Regions from separate parts of the Homo sapiens genome. Here region 2 is linked to region 1. The links come from fine-mapping of genetic effects on gene expression. A gene starts in region 1. The other region holds a variant in brackets. All regions are shown on one strand. Distances are from middle to middle.

What was found. PIP is the estimated chance that this variant, and not a neighbour inherited with it, causes the effect.
Region 2: its variant is fine-mapped to the expression of BORA in subcutaneous fat (TwinsUK, PIP 0.95).

What each region holds. Positions count from the first base shown.
Region 1 is chr13:72,726,366-72,729,284 of GRCh38, forward strand. BORA (BORA aurora kinase A activator) reads left to right here and starts at 1,558. Exons shown (of 12, transcript NM_024808.5): 1 at 1,558-1,642; 2 at 2,561-2,728. The coding sequence starts at 2,576. MZT1 (mitotic spindle organizing protein 1) reads right to left here and starts at 1,264. Exons shown (of 3, transcript NM_001071775.3): 1 at 1,159-1,264. The coding sequence starts at 1,237. RefSeq lists silencers at 710-769, 725-906, 1,430-1,579 and enhancers at 1,000-1,069, 1,790-1,839.
Region 2 is chr13:73,038,724-73,041,642 of GRCh38, forward strand. No RefSeq gene overlaps it. Among named protein-coding and RNA genes, the nearest start is that of KLF5, 19 kb to the right of the region's middle. RefSeq lists an enhancer at 1-35. The variant C/T (reference allele first, on the strand shown) is at 1,712.

The DNA.
Region 1 (2,919 bases):
GGTTGCAGTGAGCCGAGGTTGCGCCATTGCACTCCACCCTGGGCAACTACAGCAAGACTGTGTCTCAAAAAAGAAAAAAAGAGCCTACGGTGAAGGAGAGAGAGATACAGCAGTGAGAATTTCATAGGGTTATCTTTTAACAGAGACGGAAGCTGACGTGAGTAGACCCTGGAAAACGTCTAGGCCCACTGCAAATAACAACATCGATCAAACACTCATAATACAGGTGGATGTGAGTAAAAAGGAGACAAAGAAAGAAGACTACAAGAGAGAGGCCATCTGAAATAATATAAAAATAATTGATCATCTTTGATATGTTTTTACATGGTTGTCTTATTTAAATATTCACAACTCCTGGAGGTAGGGTTTTATTTTACAGAAAAAAAAAAAAAAAAAACTAAACAGGCTCAATGATGTTTAAGTATCTAGTCCAAGCTCACCACAGGGGCATAAAGTGGCAGAACCGACATTAGAGGGTAGACAGAGGGTAACCGCAAGACACAAATTTCGTGTTCTGCAACACTTGTGTAGGCTTCACACACACGTGCCTCCGGGGCCGAAAACAGGCGACACCATAGCACTTGGGCACTGGTGTCACCCGCTTCAAGAGGAAACTAGGATAATTATGACCAAAGGGGAACTTGTTCATTCGCCGGATATTAAAGGTGCCTACTTAAGTGCGAAGAACAGGAGGCATAGCGGTGACCAAACACCTGGCCCCTGTCCCCGCCGGGATCCCAACCTTGGGGACCCCCGAAGCGCCCCGGGCGGGAATCGGGTGGGACGCGGCACGCAGGAGGGAACGGGTGTACTGGGTGGGGTGGGCGTGACGCTGTCACCGCAGGAGATCGGGCGGGTAGGGCGGACCTGGGATGCGGGATAGAGGGGGCGCGGCATTCGCGCGAGAGGGACGCGGTGCGCAACCGGCTGACTAGGGGCCGCAACGCCTAGCGCGCGCGACAAACTACGCAGCGGCGGAGACAACTCTCAAGGGATAGGGCCATCAGCCCTGCGGCCCTGGCAGGTCCCTACCAAAGATCTTGGAAGATGCCGTTTGGGGCACTAAGGGGACCTGAAGTCCTCCCCAGGCTCATTCCCGCCTGGGGGCCTTGGCTCTGGGAAGGCACGCAAGGTAAAGGGAGCGCAACGGAAACTCACCGTCCATGGTCTCCCGCACCGCATTCAGATTCGCCGCCGCGGCCGCCGCCGCCGCCCCAGCACCGCTGCTACTCGCCATGGCTAAGGCCGAGGGAGGCGGGAGAAGGGCCTGACCCGGAACTGGAGCGCCTTCCTCTCTCCGAGGCAATCACACAGCGCGTCTCGGCCCACGCCGGGCAGGCTCCGCCCCTCGCGCTCGCCGCCGGCGTGAGGCTGCGTTGATTTGAATTTGGAGCCACGTTCCTCTGCGCGGAACGTGGAGCGAGGAGTTGCCATTCGAATTTCCTACGCGGCCTCCGTGCGATTGGCTGGTTCGCGGATGGCGGGACGACACGATTGGCTAGTCGCTCACAAGCCCCGTGCCCTGGTTGGCCCAAGACAGCGCGGAAGCGGGGAGTTAAAGAGTCTATGCCTGTCGTGGAAGCTGGCCTGGCCCCCGGAGCTCCCTGGAGTCGGTACTGGGGGCTTCGTTTTGTACGCACCGGTAGGTACGCTCTTTGTGGTCCCTGGCCTTTCCTCCTGTCTGAATGGAGAGGTTTCTTTTCCCAGCTCCTGACTTGCCTGCCCGCTCGCCCCTGGTGAATGGGAGCAGTCAGGGAGTAGGTGTGGAAGAGAGGGGCACCAGAAAGAGTGGCCACGTAGGGTTGGGGGCGACGCCTCCTTCGCACTCCATCCAGGGAAGCCGGCTGCATCTCAACCTTCCAGAAGTAGACTCTTTTCCACCCCACCCCGCCAAGGTGTAGCCTCTGTAGCCTCCTTTGATTGCAAGTAATGCAGTCTCCCTTTCTATCCCGGGAGGGGTGGAGGGGAGGTCTTGGCGAAAGGAGGATTTTTGGAGGAAAGGGGACCCCAGGCAGTTAATTTCCTAGCCCCTGTCAATCATACTTCTCTGGCTAGGACTCATGTGCAAGAAAGGCACAAGCTTCCTCATCTCTTACCTGCTTGCTACAAAGAATTGTTTAATAGCAACTGTAGTTGGATAGGGTATCCGAAGAATGTTCATAGTGTTGAGACATGAGATGATGAATTTAAAAAAAATTGTAGCTATAAGTCCTTTAGTTGAGAAGAGATCTGGGCCTGTTGTAACCTTTAGTTTCCTCAGAGGCAGATCTGAATTCATTCATATTTGATTGCTGCGTATAAGCCACTTCACTTCTCTGAGCTTAATACTTTCGCAAAATAATATCACTAGTAAGTTACTGCTATAGCTTTCAAGGTTGTTTCGAGGATCAGTTGAGAACATTTATATGTGATACTTTTTTTGTAAGCTGTATCATAGCCCCAAGAGTGTGAGGTTTTGAGTTGTTTTTTGTGACACATTTGTCGAGTACATTTTAATAGTTAAAATTAATATCTATGGGACTTTGTAATTTTAACATGCATACTCTTGATTTCTTTTTAGTTTTCTCTCTGTGCTATGGGAGATGTCAAGGAATCAAAGATGCAAATAACACCAGAAACTCCAGGAAGGATCCCTGTTTTAAATCCTTTTGAAAGTCCTAGTGATTATTCTAATCTCCATGAACAAACTCTCGCCAGTCCTTCTGTTTTTAAATCAACAAAATTACCAGTAAGTTATTCCTGACTAGTGTTTACAACTAATTTTAAATGTAAGTAATTACAAATAATTTTAAATGTAAACATCTGTCTTTACAAGGTAAGGAGGAAATACATTATGGAGCATATATAGCTGCAATATACTTTTTTAAATTGTAGTGTTCATTATAATCTAGTGGTTAGGTTAATAAGTTAGCTAGAAGA
Region 2 (2,919 bases), 310 kb after region 1:
TTATTTTTAAATTTGCAACCAACAGTCCAATTAGAGTACATGAGTACCATATGGAGACAGAAATTTTTTTTCAGTTCTGCTATGTTCATTTTGTGGTATTAGGCTGAGTTTTTTGTCGTAAGAAGAGAGATATATATATCTCTCTTCTTACATGTATATATATATATATATATATATATATATATGTTTTTGTTTGTTTGTTTTTGTTTTTGTTTGTTTTTTGTTTTTTTGTTTTGTTCTGTTTTGAGAAGGAGTCTTGCTCTGTCACCAGACTGGAGTACAGTGGTGCGACCTCGGCTCACTGCAACCTCCGGCTCCCAGGTTCAGGTGATTCTCCTGCCTCAGCCTCCTGAGTAGTTGGGACAACAGGCATATGCCACCACACCCAGCTAATTTTTGTATTTTTAGTACAGATGGGGTTTCACCATGTTGGCCAGGATGGTCTTGATCTCTTGACCTTGTGATCCACCTGCCTCAGCCCCCCAAAGTGCTGGGATTACAGGTGTGAGCCACTTTACCCGGCTGAAGACATATGTTAATACAGAATGTTAGATGTTGCTGAAGATGTGAGGAAACAGAATTGCTAAACTGCAGATAGGGTGATTTACTTAGACATGAGGAAGAATTTCTCAACAGCAGAGTGAAATCTTATGTGGAGGTGGTTTGAAAGTTGCATACTTTATGAAATAGTATGTGGCAAAGACTGGGCACACAGCAAGGCCTGTTCTAAGAGGAACATTTCAATTGATTGCATTTGTTACTGTACATGGTATTAAGTCCCAGAATGGGATTTTTCTACTCACCTGGTTGCAATGCTAATAATGACCACCATTCAGCATTGTATACACCAAGTACTTACCAACTGCTACCTTCCAAGGATTTTTTTCAATATTATGTTAACATTTAAACTTATCATTTAAAAAGCTATGAATAGAGCCAGCCTCGCCTGTGTATGAGGAAAAATGATATCTCTGAGGTTTAAAGCATACTGAATTAACACATTCCAAGTCATTTCTTCTTCTTCTTGTTTTTTTTTCCTAATTATGGCAGCAATTAGCTTTGCAGCATTGCATTCATTCCAAACAGCAGGGATGGAAAACAATAATCCTGTTTACCTGAAGCTGGAGAGAGTGTACCTAGCTTTGTTCCCTCCCCAGCCTAATCTAAATGCTTTGCTAGGTGCCATCCCACACAATAGACTGTGACTGAGTCACTAGCAAACCCTCTCCCTCACCTGGTTAATTCACTTGTCACTGTAAACCTCTGCAAGGTCAAGAAATAACAGATAACAGGTCATTTCCAACTTAATAAGGTGGCACATTTTACTTACATTCACTTAAAAAGATAGAGCCCTCAGATATATGAATACCTGTTTTAAAAAAATCGTTCGATCTGTTAAAATTATCACAGGGAAAATAACAGAACTCTCTTGGATTGTTCTTGACAATTAATGGAATAGAAAGGTGGCGATTGTAAATGCTTTTTTTTTTTTTTTGTCTTTGCAGTAATGGAGAAGAGTAAATTATTAAATGGACACATTATTTACGTTTGAAAAAAAGCTGCATCTCATGCTAGGAAAATAGGTTACAGGCAATTTTGCATTATAATGTGAACATGTCATTAGTTTTAATTTTCCACACCAAAGATTGTAGGGTAATTTGCTTTCATTAGAATGGAGTAGTTTTTCCTCTACATACATTATCTTTCAAAC[C/T]TCTATTGCCTCCATGAGAGATTTTAGTTCTTCTTTTCTTAATTTGTAAGAAAAATAGTCTTGATTTTTCTAAGTATCTAAATATTGTGGCAAAAGTTTTATTGCATATAACAAGAGCTGAAACACAGGGTGAACGCACTGCAAATGTGTCATAACCATTGCACAATGCCAAATATCATAATATATGAAGGTATACCACCACCATTTGACATGTTTTAGTGTTGTAGGGCACTAAGTGTACACAGTGTATTTCTCTGCTGTAAAATGTAGGCTACTATAGAGGAAGAACAGTAATCAGTTACACATTAACCATAAAAGGTCATTTCTTGCGGCAAATGATATGTTGATCAAGCAATATTTGTCAGTAGACCTGAGTCTTACTACTGAATGACGCTCATGAAGAAAACCATTGTCCAGTGGGACATCATCATATATGCAAATCATCCATTTGTTTGGATGGTTTAAATATCATCAAGTCTTTATCTTCGCTTCTATAATGTAACTCACTGACTTTTCAGCTAATCAATCCCTGATGCTACATTTTTCTGTTAACTTACTATGCTGCACAGTCAAACAATGATTAATCTCCTAATGTTAACTATGCGATAAGAAAAATATTAAAAGAAAATGAATGACGTATTCACTTGTGTTACAAAATTGTCTATAAACTAGTTTCCCAGCATGAGCTGTGGTTTATTTTCAAACTTAAATAACTTGTCTATGTAACCTTATCTTCCAGGTACTTCCTGCAAACTTCATACATTATGCAATCAAGCCCATAAATATAGGTAGAAGTTAACTTGAATGGCTGAAACAGAGTTAACCACACACATGTAGTTAGAGCGTTATCATTTCTGCCATAAACCTCTCCCTTTTAAGAGATTTACCAAGCTATCATAAAAAATGTGTTATTGCCTGTATCTTTGCAAAACATGAGTTCCTATGAAGTGACTTGCCAGCCTGGGCAACAAAGACAGACCTTGTCTCTACAAAAAAATTTAAAAATTAGCCAGACGCAGTGGTATGCGCCTGTAGTCCTTGCTACACTCAGGAGGCTGAGGCAAGAGGATTGCTTGAGCCCAGGAGTTCCAGGCTGCAGTGAGCTATGATTGCGCCACTGCACGCCAGCTTAGATACCAAAGAAAGATCCCATCTTAAAAAAAATGTGACTTGGCTTCTTTTTTTTTTTTTTTTTTTTTTTTTGACGG